Linked DNA regions of Homo sapiens: region 2 is linked to region 1. Evidence: fine-mapped expression QTL. A gene starts in region 1. The other region holds a variant in brackets. All regions are shown on one strand. Distances are between the middles of the regions.

Region 1 (8,339 bases):
ATGTACTAACTCTGGCAGATTTCCATTATTCACAGTAAGAGCCCTAAAATGGATCTAATCTAAATGTTTCCTAATGTATTATTCAATCTCCAGGCAAGAAATTGACATATATTAGTTGGCCACAGGGCTCAAATCAAGACAGTAAAGCGCTATTAACAATACCCTTTCAGCAGCTAACCCTCCAACATTTTCTTCACATCCCACGAAGTACTTGTCATCTCCTTAAACTACTGTTACCTCTTATACCCCAGTTTCTTGCAAATAATAATGCTGCCTGATACTTTCCATATCCTCAGAATGAACTTACCGTAAGTCTCATAATAGGAGCTGCTTAACTTACTTATTTAAACCTTCAACAAAACAGGCCAGTTTAAGATTTTTAAAAAATTGCCCAAATACCTTAACATGTTGACCAAGTCATCTAGGAGATAATACCATTTTCGATTTATCAAGAACCTTATTAAAACTAAAATTAGATATTTCTATTGGCTTTACAAGAAAGAAAGAGTGATACATTGTGATTACCTATAAATTCCTGGACCCAATCCCAGATCTACTTAAGCCCTCTTGGGAGCACAGCACAGAATTGTCTTTACTTTGGCACTCTTCCCAAATAGATACAAAGAGATGGTGTTTTAGGGACACTGTACTCAACACTGGACTCAATTGCCCGAATTACTCCAAGATAACATTCTACACTAGTCCACAGACCTATTCTGCTAAATTTCTCCACAAGAAACGGGACCAAATTCCACTTCTAAATGACCACACCATAAATGAGTTTTCCAAGAAACGTAAGAATGGAGGGAAAAAAAAATTGTTTCTAAAAATGCTTTATACCAACCATGACTAATCAGGTAGGCTGTGGGGAGTAACTTCTTGGAGAGAATACACACACACACAAACACGCACATGAAAACACGCTCCTACACCCCACAGACAAGACATAGAGGAAATGAGGGATAAATCTCAACTAGCATTTATTGAGCACCTACTATGTGACAGAGATCATATTGGACTTCAGGGATATATGGTGGAGAAAGATCTCTCTGTTCCTCCAATAATCTCATGGGTCTTAGTCCCATTTTACAGATATGAAAGCCGACATTTAAGAAACATCCTGCCATGGTGGGCAGATCGCTTGAGCCCAAGAGTTCAAGACCAACCTGGACAACATGGTGAAGCCCATCTCTACAAAAAACACAAAGATTAGCCAAGCATGGTAGTACACGCCTGTGGTCACTATTCAGGAGGCTGAGGTTGGAGAACTGCTTGAGACTGGGAGATAGAGGCTGCAGTGAGCTATGATCACGCCACTGCACTCTAGCCTAGGCACCTAAGACCCTGTTTCAAAAAAAAAAAAAAATCCTATGATGATCAAACTGGAAATACACAGCATAGTTAGCACACGAATGCAAGCCCACCTAGTGCCAATGCTTGTTATTATTTTCCACTCTAACACAGCACCTAAAGCCTTAACTGAGGAGGGGGAAAAAAAAATCACAAAAATCTTCCTTCTTGACATTTAAATCTATTCAATCTTCCTTATATGAGGCCAAATAGTTTGAAGGCTTTAGCCATATTAGTTTCAAAATAATATGTGATTTTGATCAAGTGCGGGTGGTGATAGTTTACATGGTAGCTATCATCGTTACTTTACATATGTAACACTTTCATAGGTGTAATAGACTTCAGGCAATGTTGTAAGTATTCGAAACATATTAACTTATTTAATATTCAAAACCAACCTATGAATTAGGTACCATGACAGAAAAAAAAATGGTTAAATAAAGTGCATGAGGCCACCAATTCAAATTCAGGTCATCTGGCTCCAGCCTTCATGCTCTTAATACACCACTTGTAAACACAGACATTGAGACTTGAAATGTTAAGAAAGCATAAAAACAACACTGTTTCAATAAACAAGAGCATACAGTCACGTATCTGCCACCACAGTCAATCAGCCTTCATTTTTTCATTCTAAAATTGGTATGTTTAATGTACTTAAAATGAAGGAGGCAGCAGATTTACAATTGCTCCTTAGTGTGAGGTTGTTAAAAAAAAAAAAAAAAAAGGCCAGGCACGGTGGCTCACACCTGTAATCCCAGCACTTTGGGAGGCCAAGGCGGGCAGATCACTTGAGGTCAGGAGTTCGAGACCGGCCTGGCCAACATGGCGAAACCCCGTCTCTACTAAATATACAAAAATTAGCCAGGCGTGGTGGCGTGCACCTGTAGTCCCAGCCTCTCAGGAAGCTGAGGTGGGAGAATCACTTGAACCCGGGAGGTGGAGGTTGCAGTGAGCCGAGACTGTGCCACCGCACTCCAGCCTTGGGGACATAGCAAGACTCTGTCTTTAAAAAAAAAAAAAAAAAAAAAAAAACACCACTTGTACTCTCTAGCCTCTTAAGTCTAATAAATCTGTGTATGCACAACAGTTCTTGATATTGCCTTCATCAGTTTAAACAATGAAGTGTCAAATTCCTAAGTTACAAATACCAAGTAGGAACTGGAGATAACAAGATTTATAAAATATGATACATTCCCAAAAAGGCAACGAGGGCCACTGCAAGTCAGTTTAATAACATAATTAACCGCCAAAAGTCAGAACAGGTAAGGTATATTCTGGCAACAATAAGATTAGTATAATTAGATTGTAGGTTTATGGTGTGCAATGGCAGAGGATGATGCTGATGAACTAGGATGAAGCAAACTGTAAAGGGCCAACAATTGAAATGTGTCCTTTAGGTCAGCAATTCTATGACTGCACATCAGGAAAGAAAAGGAAGAAAGAAAAATAAAAAAACACCAATAATCAGTATGACCAGTACTCCATCCCCAGACCAATCAAACCAGAATTTCTGTACCAGGCACAGTAGTTCACCCCCGTAACCCCAGCTCTTTGAGAGGCTGAGGCATGGAGGCCAAGAGTTTAAGACAGCCTGGACAACATAGCTAGATACTGTCTGTATAGTAAAAAGTATTAAAAAATATTTTTAAATGTAGTAAAAAGTATAAAATATAAATATATAGTAAAAAAGTAAAAAAAAAAAAAAGTTTTAAAAATCCGAATTTCTGGGACTCATACCATTTGAATATTTGAAAAGCTCTCCAGATATTCTAATGTACATCAAAGGTCATGAACTACTAAAATGGCAAAGGGAAGACAGGAAGATCATTAGTAGAGAAGTGACATGATCAAGTATGTTTTTAGGAAGACAACTGGCAACAATATGGAAAATGAATAGGAGGAAAAGAAACTACTGAAAGTTAAAAATGATCCTGAACTAAGGCAGCCACAGTTACTACATGAAGGAACATTGGAGTCAGGAGACATCCCGCTGGCAGAATCAAAAAAGATGATGATAATCTAGATATAAGGGAAAATCAAGAATGCTTTAGATTTCAACCTTTAAAAACTTAGGAAATGACGAGCAGCTGAGTTTTGTTTTTTTGTTGTTTTTTTGTTTGTTTGTTTTTGACACAATGAGTTTTAATGATGCCTAAAGCCAGTTAACAAAAACCGGGATTGAAATAAAAACCTAGGGCCATCAATGTAGGATATCACTAAGGAGTACACACAGAGCAGCATTCGTAAAGGAGATCAACATTCATTATCTGGTGCGTTTGTTAATGCAGATTCCTGAGTCTCAATCAAAATATACGGAATAAGTCATTTAGGCCTCTGAAAATTTTGAGAACCACTGAAGACAAAGAAGCACACAGGACCACGATGGACCACGATGGAATTTTGGTGGGATCAAACATGCGTTCTGTATGGCAGCCAGTGAGTCAGAATTTTATGAATATCTGACACTGAAGTTTTTGATTATTTCAGGACACAAGCTACAGAGAACACCAAAGTTAGCCATCTTGGCTACACTTACGCTGTGAAATCTGCAGCTGCTGTAGCTGCTTTGGTGGCATCCTTATTCAGTGTTGCACCCCAAACAGCACCTTTATGACCCAAAAATGTTCCAATCCAGTCTCCTGTATCTCCCTGGCGTAGCATAGGTTTACCATCTAGAAAATATTTTTTAAAACATGTAATTTATAAGTTCAGATTACTTAAAGTCTAAGATTCAAATGTAAATATACAATGATGTTCAATGACAAAGTGGAAAAATTGTTTCAGCTATTTAACTACCACCACCCACTGAAGGCACTAAGGAATGTGCAGTAATAAATTAACTGAAGAGCTGAACAGATCATTCTCTCTGAAAAGCATCTGTAATTGGCTGGGAATACTGATCTGCGTCAAAACAATCTAGATTTTAGTCTTATTTTGGACAGACATCTTAGCCTGAATCTCAGTTTCCCATTTGAAAAATGAGGCTAATACCACAAAGGAATATCCAGTGAGACAAGAGCGAACGTCTTTGTAAGGTATTGCACGGCCTGGCCTAATTTCTCCTTTCCCCAAATCCTTGAAAGCTATTTACCGTGTTGTCCCGAGAGTCTAGGCAAATGCTGACCAGCTCCTTCAAAAATAGCAATAAAAATAAAATAAGGAGAGAGGTCTTAGTTGGAGGTAATAGTTTCTACAAAAGCGTCCTCTCGGCTCCAGCTGCGGATTCCCTAACACACTCCTTTCTCCACCGGACCAGTGTTGGCTCTCATCTCAGATGTTAATATCGCCCCCTCCCCCCTCACCACACCACCGCTTCGGCACTGGAGCGTGCGGGTCCCGATCCCTTTCAGCCCAGTCCCAGCCGTCGAGGACCAGGATTGCGGCCTTGCTCACCTTTGCAAGCGCTGATTAAGAAATACCCATAAGGCGTGATGCCACTGAAGGCCAAATCAACCACGGGTCGCGTGTGGCCAGAGCAGGTGAGCGGCGTCTGTCTCATTGCCATGGCGGCGGCGAAGCCAGCGACCGGACTGGCGAGCTGAGGGTCGTCGTTGTCTTTTCTCTCTTCTGCTGCAGTGCCTCGGGCTGCTCCAGGCCCCCGCCCTGACACTAGGGCTGGGCTGGGCAACAGGAAAAGAAGGGCAATCCGGTGGCACCGAGGTTAGGGAGGGGTGAGGGAGGGGTCAGGGAGTCTGCGACCAGCAAGCAACAGTCGACGAGGGAGGGAAAGGGAGGGAGGGAGGAAAGTAGGGGATGGGGAGAAGCGGAGAACCGGGCCAGCCACGATTCACAGCGTCCACACCGGCATCGGCAGGAAGTGACGACGTAAATGACGCAGAGCACCCGCCGGAAATGACGATTGGCGGGAGGGCGGGCTCGCCGGGTAGAAGTGACTTGAAGAAAGAGCGAGAAGTATAGAAGGGCGCAGGCGCTAGTTCAGTGCTCGTGAGGTAACTGGCGCTGGCCCACGCCGACTAAGGGAGACGCTCTAGGCACCGGGATGGGGTCCCTGTCCCCGAGCTCTAGCGGGTCAGAACGCCTTCCTGGTCCGCGGCCGAGTTGAAAGTTGTTCCCACTCCCATAAGTCCAAGGACCAGCGTCAGCTGTGTACCTGCCGAGCAGCCCTACTGAGGACTGTGCTCGGCCTCTGAATATCTAGACGGACACGAGCCATACCCAGTGACGGCCCAAACCAGCGAACGCTGTCTGGCAACGTTTTTTGCAATTTGTCTTATTTAAAAACCATATACGGGCTTGGAGTGGTGGTGCCTGTGGTCCCACCTACTTGGAAGGCTGAGGTGGGAGGATAACTCGAGCCCGAGAGGTCGACACCGCAGTAAGCGGTGCTCGCGCCACCGCACTCCAGCCTGGGCAACAGAGCGAGACCATGTATTAAAAAAAAAAAAAAAATCCCCAGTCATTTCTTCCGCTGTGTAAGTTTTCCTATGTTGCTAATGTTTTAGGAGTGGATACTATATAGTTTTAAATGCGATTAAATTCAAGTTACTTTTTCCTTGGTGGACTTCGGAGAACTCTAGAGTCGTAGATCCCCAATTTTTTTGATGAAATACTCTCATCCGTAAAGTGAGCCTTCACTCATTTTATAAGCGAATGAATGCTGAATTCTATCAAAAACTTTTACACCTTTTGATATGATGTATATATGAGTGATGATTTGCAAATTACATAGATGTGCATTATAATACATGGACAAAAATAGAAATATTAAAATAATATTTAAATATAAACAAACTCTGATATTGTCTGCAGCAGGCAGCCCACTGTGGCTCTGTGAAACCACCAGAGCTGTTAATTGTTGATACTGTTTCCTAACCAGGAGAGGGCTTTTCTCTGGGCAAGTTGTATCTTTATTGATAGAATGTAAACCCAATACAACAGAGATTTTTGTGTTTTCTTTGCTACTTTATCCCCAAGGTCAAAACGTCTGGGCACATAGCAATAAATATGTAATCAACATAAATGTCTGTGAATGTTTTCTTCATCTTTTTGCAGCAAACACCGTCTACAAGATTCGAGTCAAACAACGTGAGAACTTGAAATACGTCTCCATTCTTTTTCCTTAGTACTCTCGTTCATTCACTTACGGTAAAGCACTTACTATATATGTTTTTCATTTTATCTTGTTCGACTCCTCCTTTGTGCCATCCTCTCCCTTTTGTCTCACACATACGCACCACTCACACATTTATGAACTCCTTAATGGCAATGGTTATGGCTTTGTCATTTGTACTCTAGTGCCAGAAAAGTGAATGGCATTTAGTGAATACTCAGCATGACTGTTTACTGATTAAATAGATTGTTGCATTACTGATGGAGGTAAATAAAAGACCCACTCAAAATGACACAACTGGTCAGATACTGATACATGTTCATTTATTGCTCATTGTGTGTAGATAAGAATATAATTGGTAAGTTATGGTACATACTTGGCTCTAAAGAATGTATTATTTCCTGCTCATTTGGATTCTGAGTTCTAAGAGTATTGTGTATTATGACCAATTGGGTAGGCTTCAAGGTCAATTTAATATTAGAAGACAGGTTAATGTAATTGATATAATTAACAATATTAAAAGATTAAAGAAAATCATATCAAAAGATGTGTAAGAAGTTTTTGATAGAATTCAGCATTCTTTCACTTATAAGAATTCTGAGACACTAGAAATAGAAGGGACTTTTTTAACCTCATAGAATATCTGAAACCCCACACCTAATGGTGAAATACAGAAAGCATTCTGTATTAGATTAGGTACGAGACAGATGATTGCTACTGCCTCTTCAATACAGCATCGTACTAGATGTTCAGGTAACTTAAAAATGCATAAATCTTCCAAAGAAAGTTGTAAATCTGTGATTAGAAATTGTTTTAGAGGTTATATACAAAGAAAAGAGGCAAGGTGTGGTGGCTCATGCCTGTAATTCCAGTTCCCAGTACTTTGGGTGGCTGAGATGGGAGGATCACTCCAGCCCAGGAGTTCAAGACCAGTCTGGGCAACAAAGTGAGACCCAGGCTCTACAAAAAAATAAAAAAATTAGCCAGGCATGGTGGTACACTACTGTGATCCCAGCTACACGGGACACTGAGGCAGGAGGATCGCTTGAGCCCAGAAGTTCATGGCTGCAATAAGCCCAATTTCTGCCACTGCACTGCAGCCTGGACAATGAGGTAAGACCATGTCTCAAAAGAAAAAAATAAAAATAAAAATTATTGGAATTAATGAGAGAATTTAGAAAGGTTACTGAAGTTGTTTTTTTCTTTTTTTAGAAGAGATGAAGTCTCACTATGTTACCCAGGCTGGGTGCGATGCCTAGGTTACTGGGTTTTGTTGTTGTTGTTGTTGTTGTTTTAAGTGTAATGAAGAAATCACATTTCTATACATTAGCAACAACAAAAAATGTAATTTTAAAATATGCCATGTTAAATAGCATCAAGAATTATAAAGTACATAGGAATAAAAAAACAAAGTGTACTCCCCAGCAGAAAAAAAACTGGCACGCTGAAATGTAGAAGTTGAGAGCAGTGTAATGAAGGGATTAGTTACAGAAGTGTGGCCAGGATCAAAAGTAAACAACAAGGAGAAAATAGGGCACTAACCATAGATCTGAATGAGAAACTGAAAGGGAGCAGTTATCTGAACCTGATTTATTTGAGAAAGGTACGGTTGCAGGAGAAGGCTCTGGGCGAGAGCTGGAATAATCAGTAGAAGAACACAACTGCTCCCAATTATCATCAGCACAGCCATGGGGAAGAAGTGGGGAAATGAATATCTACTTTTAGATCTCCCATGCTTCCCATTGGTCAAACCCAGCCAGAGCCCAGAAGACAAGGGAGCCCTTTAATGGGGTCCATAAATGTCAACCTTCTAGGACTTAAACCATAGTACAAAAAGGAGAAAAGGGGATCTCGTTAAATAAAGGAATACCCAACATGATGTTCAATATTATTTAATGCCTCTCAGCAAAATGTATCG
Region 2 (8,339 bases), 20 kb before region 1:
AATGCATCTTGTTGTTGCTCCCTTCTGAAAAATTGCATCCATTTTTCCCCAACCTTGGTCTCAAAGAAAAGGCAGCTAAATACTTCCATGGAATTTGAGCAACTACTAAAAAATGTAATCTATAATTTGTTATAAATTATGGTGCATCTATATGCTATTTGGTGCATCTATGCTATTTTGTAGACGTTATAAAGAATGTGTTGAACTTTACTGACATGAAAAATATTCTGAAGAGAATTGAATGACCACACTCAATCCTGGCTTCCTGGAAGAAAACTCTGGATGACACTAAAATAGAGAAGTAATTGATTCATAAAAAGGTAAATTACTAATATTAGGTGGGAACTTGGGATACCATGACCTACTGGAAATTAGGACCTAGAGAGGAGACTCCAGGGGATGAATTGGATGAGAAGGCAAGTGAAAGCTGGATTCTTCCTGGGTAACTTCAGTCTCACACCGGCTGAAGCTGTACACGGGTTCACTGGAGAGGTAAGAGCTTTGTCTTGCCATGTCTGCCATGCCTGCCATGTCTCACTCTTCAGTGGAGGATGGCCTGCTACATATGAGATAACTGGAAAACAGTCTTCCTGGTCTGACATGGATTACTGGGAGAGATTAAAAAGATTTGGTGAGGGACTTGTTTCAACAACTATTGAGCACTCACAACATACCAGTCACCTTTCCAGGTAAAGGGAGACTATCAATGAAGCTGAAAAACATGCAACAAAATTTCAAATAGCGTTAACAAGTATGAATAAAATAGGACTCAGTAAGAAGTGACAAGAGATGGAATACAGACCAGCTGGAGAACTGAATGCAAAGAAAGGATCCAGCCAAGCAAAACATTAGGTAAGAGTGAACCAAGTAGCAGAAATATCAAGTGAAAAGGACTTGAGACAGAAATGAGGCCACTGTGGCTAGAGCAGGGCAAGCAAGGGAAATATGAAAAAGTCACAAAAGGTATCAAGAGCCAACTAATCATAAGAATTTCATATAATGGGAAGCCATTACAGATCTTAACAAGGAAATCACCTCATCTCTTCAAATCCTAAAGCAATTACCTTTCCTACTGTATGGAGTATGGATGGGATAAGAGCCAGACGAATGAGTAGGGGCAAGAGGGAGCAGTTATGAAGGAACTGAGAAATAAAGGTAGCCTGCCTAGGGTGGTAACAATGGAGAGGAGGCAAAGCACAGCTTCGAAGAGCCCACAGGACTTGCATATAGACATGGGCATGAGAGAGAACACAGTCAAGGATTTACATGTCTTTTAGTTTGAACAAGTAAGTATAAGTTAGTACCAGTTAGTGGAATGGGGAAAGGTTGAGGGAAACAGGTTTGATTTAAAAAATCAAGACTTACGATAGGTAAGTCTGAGTCTTATGAAAGGTTAAGATGGAGCACTCAACTATGCTGTCAAACTCTGGTGCTCAAAGAGGCAGACCAGGTAGACAACATATAAACAACGATGTAGAACCTATCAGAAGATCTTGAGTAACAGCAGATATTTTTCTTTAGACAACAGAGCTAGAAAGTGCAGCCCAGATCTGAAGTCAAGAAAAAAAAGGAGGAACTGGCAAATACAAGAGTCAGTAAGGTATAAAAAGACCCTGCCGGGCACGGTGGCTCACATCTGTAATCCCAGCACTTCGGGAAGCCGAGGCGGGTGGATCACGAGGTCAGGAGATCAAGACCATCCTGGCCAACATGGCAAAACCCCGTCTCTACTAAAAATACAAAAATTAGCTGGGCGTGGTGGTGTATGCCTGTAGTCCCAGCTACTCAGGAGGCTGAGGCAGGAGAATCGCTTGAACCTGGGAGGCAGAGGTTGCAGTAAGCTGAGATCGCACCATTGCACTCCAGCCTGGGTGACAGAGCGAGACTCCATCTCAAAAAAAAAAAAAAAAAGACCCAGGAGTGTAGTTTCATAGAAGCTAAAAAAAAAAATCAAAAACCAGGAAGTGGATGATTATTGAATGCTGCTGAAGGTTTAGTTAAGATGAGAACAGAAAAGTGACCACTACTCTTGAAAGTTTTGTTAAATTCTACTGTAGGATTCTACCATTACCAAGTGTGGTAAGCAGACTAATAACTAATGGCCCCCACAAAGATGTCTACTTCCCAATCCCCAGAACCTGTGAATATGTCATCCTATATGGCAAAAGGGACTTTTGCAGATGTGATTAAATTGAAGATCTTGAATTGGAAAGATTATCCTGGATTATTCAGGTGAGCCCGATATAATTACAAACCTCCTTATAAATAAAAGAAGGCAGCAGGAGATAGAGTCACATTCAGAATAAGAGATTAAAAAACGGACACTGCTGGACGTAAAGAAAGAGGAAGGAACCATGAGCCAGGGAATGCAGCTGGCTTCTAGAAGCTAGAAAAGGCAAGGGAACAGATTGTCCTGTAGAGCCTCTAGAAGGCTTGCAGCTCTGCTGACACCTTAATTTAAGCCCAGCAAGACCTACTGTGGACTTCTGACCTCCCTAACCGTAAGATAATAAATTTGTGTTGTCTTAAGGTACACATTTGTGGTCACTTGTTACAGCAGCAGCAGGAAACCAATACACAAAGGACTGTACCTGTACAGGGTCATTAGACTTTTATGAAACCTAAGGAGAAATTCCCTTGGTTCATAAATAACAAGCAACTTCATGATTCCAATCTGATGCGTACAGAACTTTATTGAGGGTAAATCAGACTCTGATTAGAGTCTGAGCAACTGCTGGTACAATGACAACACTGCTGCAATCCAGAGGTTCAGGCATGTAACAAGCTGACACAAAAATACTACCACTCTATGAAAGCCAATATGGATCACCAGTTGGCTCCCCTGTATTTCTCTCGGCCCTCACAGGTTGTCACAGCCTACAGTGCTTTCTTCTGGTTATCACAAATCCTCAAAAATTAATCTTATTCTTTGGTTGACTCATATTGCTTTTAAGAAAAGTTATCAAGGGTCACTCACAGGACTGATCAGGAGAAAAAGGAAGTTGCAGAGATGTTATTTATTCATCTGAAGTATTTCCAAATTACTCATTTAATATGCCCTCTTTGTTTTAAAAAATAAATTACAAGTCTAAACTCAGCTGATCCAATTTATTAGAAGGTTTTAGAAGGGCTTTCTGAATGCCACCCAAATTTAAAGAATGAGGTAAAATTCCATACTTCTTAAACCACTGCAGGACTATAGTAATCCCATTTTTATAAAATCCATTCTATCTATCTGTATATACATACAGAGATGCCCTAACATGCATTCATGGTCATTTGATTTTAATAGTTTTTTGAGGAGTGGTAGGATTTTAAGTGATCTTTCAGCTTACTGCTAAATTTCAGTTGATTTTTTTTTTCTTATAACTAGCATGTATTATTTAAATAATTGTTTAAAAAGGCATGTCAAGCACTTCTATCCAATCTGGGAATAGAGAAGGTAAATGAAACACTAGTAAAGGACATAAGAATTTCAAAAATTCAGGACAAGTAACTGAATCTCAATATTATAAAATAATGTTTACTACAGATTAATTGGCTTACCTTTTGCTATGGTTATGATACAGAAAAACCTTCTGGCTATTTCCACTTATAAAACTCACATTAGTAGTTTTTCCCCAAAAAAACCAAACATTGTTTTGTTTTAGAGGCATTTTATTTAGACAACTAAAAACAATTAGATGTTCAGAGGCAGTGTACAATGAACGAGAAATCAAACCAGTTACTTTATCATGTATTCCCTCTTCTTTACAACTGAAGCAAAAAAAGAAAAGGCATTCTGCTTTAAGATCAGAAAAAATCAGC[C/T]AATATAGTTTTCTTCTCCATATTAACATAAACAGCTACAAGAACCCTAATTGTAATAATAGAAATTGGATGTTGGCTTGTATATATTCATTAAAAAGATAACAGGCCACTGTACTATAAGAGGATAACTCCACCTCCCTTCATCTGACACTTGAGTTTTCACTTACAGGTAACACCAAGTTAGTTAGTTGTTCCAGCACTGGAGCTAATTCATTTTCCTCATTATTTACTGCTGTTTCTGCCTTAAGCAGACAGTAACTCTGGAAGGCTGATGCTTTTCTCTGCTTGCTTGTTTTAGTCAGTTGTATACTAACTGCACATATGATTGACGCTCAGGCCTTAACATCAGGAGCTGAAGGAAAGATGCAATCTGAATTCTCTGAAGCAATTTCTTCTATAAGTAAAAAAAAAAAAAAAAAAAAAAAGTCACATTAGTCAACTTAATGAAAGAAAGAAGCAAATCTACATTTCTGTGTAATGAAGGAATGAAAAAGTGTTTGTAAAGCATACTGTGGTAAGGGAAAGAAGAGAGCAACTGCACATGCCACTAACAACTAGACTCATGTCATTGAAAAGGCAAAGAAGAAAGAGTTCATGTGTTTTATCCACTAGATTCTCTTACACCATAACTCAACCTCCAAGGGTCCCTTTCTGGCCTAAATTTTCAAAGACTCCAGCTATATAACAAACCCGGAATTAAAGTCATGTCTTCGAAGGATCTGGCCCTCTCTTTTAGTGATTCAAATCCTAATATTTAGTGCTATTTAAAGCAAAACATTAACCATCAACATTGTTTTAGCAAGAAGGTGCTTAACAATAAAAAATTTAAGGAAAACTCTATTGGGTAAATGGTAAACACCTTCCCAACCTCCCCCAAAATCATCATACCCAGTTTCTCATGGCAGCAATCTGCATATTTCTTCCTCATGATACCCCCACTCATCAATCTCACAATTCTAACAAGTCTAACAAAAGACTCTCAACTCCATCTACCTTTTTCTGTTCTCATTGCAATACCCTTATTAAAAACTACATGATAGGCCGGGTGCAGTGGCTCACGCCTGTAATCCCAGCACTTTGGGAGGCCGAGGTGGGCAGATCATGAGGTCAGGAGTTCAAGACCAGCCTGATCAACATGGTGAAACCCCATCTCTACTAAAAATACAAAAATTAGCCAGGCGTGGTGGTGCACCTGTAATCCCAACTACCCAGGAGGCTTACGCAGGAGAATTGCTTGAAACCAGAGGCGGAGGCTGCAGTGAGTCGAGATCATGCCACTGCACTCCAGCCTGGGCAACAGAGCAAGACTCCATCTCAAAACAAAACAAAACCTACATGATCACTCATCTAGACTACAATGCCCCCTAACTGGTTTATGTTCACTCTTGTTCCCAGTCCAATTCTTTGTACGTGCAACAGCCAAGGCAACCTTTTTTTTTTTTTTTTTTTTGAGACAGAGTCTCTCTCTGACACCCAAGCTGGAGTGCAGTGGCGCAATCTCGGCTCGCTGCAACCTCTACCTCCTGGGTTCAAGCTACTCTCCTGCTTCAGCCTCCTAAATAGCTGGGATTACAGGTATCTGCCACCATGACCGGCTAATTTTTGTATTTTTAGTAGAGACAGGGTTTCACCATGTTGGCCAGGTTGGTCTTGAACTACCAAGGCAATCTTTTAAAGTCCTCTTCTTAAAATTCAAAGGTTTCTCATTGCTCTTAGTATAAAACTCTCCAAGTCCTAATACAGCAAATGAGGCCCTCAGATGATCTAGCTTCTCCAGCTTCACTTTGCCTTTGCTCTTTAACCTGGAGGCATGGAGAAGTTCTTTTAGTTCCTCATATGCTATGCTCCTTTTTGGTTCTGAACTTTTAGTTAACATAGTTTTCCTGCTATGAACTTTTCCATCCTGTCCCTACCAACACCCCCTCTCATGACCTCACCTAAATCATTTCTGCTCATCCTTAGTTCCCAGTTTAAATGTCACTTCTCTAGGAAGCTTTTTTTAATCCCCCTTACAATAATTTGTGTTTTGGCATGTCTCCTAAGTTAGACTCTAGCTCTGAAAGAGTAACCACATCGGTTGTGTCCATACTACATCTCTGTGCCTATTACTACTATGCAGTAGGTATTTAAATATTTAGCTTATAAATATGTATATATACATGCATAAATATTTAAAGTTTCCATTATTTAAATATGTTCATATTTAATAAATTTCTTCTGCCAATGAGTAAAACTTCTGTTACAGTTCAATTTTAAATCCCCCAAGACTCTTACAAAAGTCAATTCCATAGCATTTACCTAGCTCCTCTTCTGTTGTCTCTGGAAAACCAATCTTTGGCTTTGCCAGCTCACCACTATCTTCTTCTGTAAAAAGAAAAGCAATGACGATTATATGACTTACACTATTAAAGTAATTTCCAGTGTTCAATAAGCAAGAAGAGCAACATAAGACTATTCCAGGAAAATGGCTACAAAATATAATAAAAACAACTCCTTTTTAAATAACTGTGATTCTAAAAATAGTATGTCTTTCTTTAAAATTACTTTTAGGTTCATACTGCAACTACTTAGGGATTAGTAACTAGGTATTTTTTATTAAGAACATGTCTATCTTTATTGGTGTGGATCAGTGAGTAATACTATTCAGAGATTAGATACATTTACTTGTAAATTCTTTATATTGCCTTCCAGCAAATTTTGAATTAGATCTATTCCAGCCACAAAATGTGCTAGTATAAAAATTTAGGAACAGACTAGATTGTACAACAAATTTTTCTTTTTTTTTTTTTTGAGACTGAGTCACTCTTGCCCAGGCTGGAGTGCAGTGGCGTGATCTCAGCTCAATGCATGGCTCCTGGGTTCATGCAATTCTCGTGCCTCAGCCTCCTGAGTAGCTGGGATTACAGGCATGTACCACCACACCTGGCTAATTTTTGTATTTTTAGTAGAGATGGGGTTTCACCATGTTGGCCAGGCTGGTCTCGAACTCCTGACCCTGTGATCCGCCCGCCTCAGCCTCCCAAAGTGCTGGGATTACAGGCGTGAGCCACCGTGCCCAGCCATACCAAAAAAAATTTAAACAAAGGAACATGACCCTTTCTCTGGCCAATTTATAATCCTGGGCTTCTCGCTGCTTAAACCATAATATATAATTTAAAATTTATAGAAAACAGGAACCCTGAAATAAAATTAATGATTAAAAATGACATAAAATCATGCATTTTAAAAATTTTATTATTCTGAATAAAAATTCTTACCAGGAAGCACACATTTCCAAAGGCCATACGTTTTTCCTACCACAGTTTGCCATAGTCTCAATGTTCCATCTTCTGAACCACTGGCATAGAGTTCTCCATCAGGACTAAATCTCACACAGTGAATAGGACCAAAGTGTCCCTTGTAGGATTCTGAAAAAGAAGAGGGCTATTAGATAATTTTAACTATTAGGTTAAATATTGATATGCTAAAAAAAAAAAATACTGTCTGTGTTACTGGGGAGATGGAAAATTCTTAAGGCAAACATTAAAACCTGTACTTAATTAATTTCTCATCACAAAAGTGGTATATCATTGACCCTTTCTCTGTAAGATTATTCCTTTCCAAATCTAGCACACATTCTAGTTTCAAACTGTCCCTCTAAAAAAAGCAAATGAGGCTTCATGTCTCATTAAGGATGGAGAAAAAGAGGTAAATGAAAACCCCATTAATTCTATAGAAAGTAGATTTAAAGTCTTACCAGTTCAACCTCCAATTTCCATATCCTAAAACTCACTGCCTATTTCTCAGGGAATCAATTTTTATTATGACTATAGAGAGCCACCAGGTGGAGCTCTTTTACACACTTTGCCTCTTAATTTCCTACAGTCCACTAATTATTCTGTCACACAGAAAGGTGAGATATAGATCAACAATGATCCATAAATATTTTAATCCATGGAACCTAATGAGAAAATGTATAGATTAGGAGCACTGTTATATTCAAGTAGTACCTTTAAGTATGAACCTTTCTCATTTACTTTCTAATGCCTCATCACCTTATTAGTTCTCAAAGCCCTTTACTAGACCAATGTTCCTATTCTGTCTCCCATCTGTGTCCCACCAGAGAATAGAAAAGTTGTAAGAGTACAAAGAACACAAGGTTTTGGAAAGAGAAAGGCTAGGCAGATCTGGTATTCACTGTGACTTCAGATCTTGGGCAAATAATTCAGTTCTCTCAATCTTGAAAAAGAATAAAATATGAAACCAAAAACATTCTAAAACTTTGAAAACTAGCATTAAATAAAAGTAACAGAAAAGAATATCTTATTTATAAATCACTTGTATTCAAGTAATAAAAACTGAACCATAAGCAATTAAAATAGATTCTACATGGTCCATCACCAAGGTTCCATTTGTGCAACCCAGATGCATCAATGTTCCCCAAGAAACAAAACGTAAAATTGTCTTTTGTTCTTTGGGTGTAATCTAGCAAGCTTCGTTCTTTGGTAAAGCAGGGCAGCTAGAAACAGACAAGAACAAGAAGAGACAGCTTA

What was found.
Region 2: its variant is fine-mapped to the expression of STRAP in whole blood (INTERVAL, PIP above 0.99).

The regions. Positions count from the first base shown.
Region 1 is chr12:15,879,224-15,887,562 of GRCh38, reverse strand. It overlaps STRAP (serine/threonine kinase receptor associated protein), which reads right to left and starts at 5,176. Exons shown (of 10, transcript NM_007178.4): 1 at 4,744-5,176; 2 at 3,887-4,022. The coding sequence starts at 4,855. It overlaps LOC102724146 (a long non-coding RNA gene), which reads left to right and starts at 5,265. Exons shown (of 6, transcript XR_007063230.1): 1 at 5,265-5,783; 2 at 6,364-6,456. RefSeq lists enhancers at 5,099-5,218, 5,529-5,758 and a silencer at 7,874-8,168.
Region 2 is chr12:15,898,779-15,907,117 of GRCh38, reverse strand. STRAP (serine/threonine kinase receptor associated protein) reads right to left here. Exons shown (of 10, transcript NM_007178.4): 8 at 7,065-7,214; 9 at 6,106-6,171; 10 at 3,640-4,201. The coding sequence ends at 4,140. Among named protein-coding and RNA genes, the nearest start is that of DERA, 8.4 kb to the left of the region's middle. The variant C/T (reference allele first, on the strand shown) is at 3,808.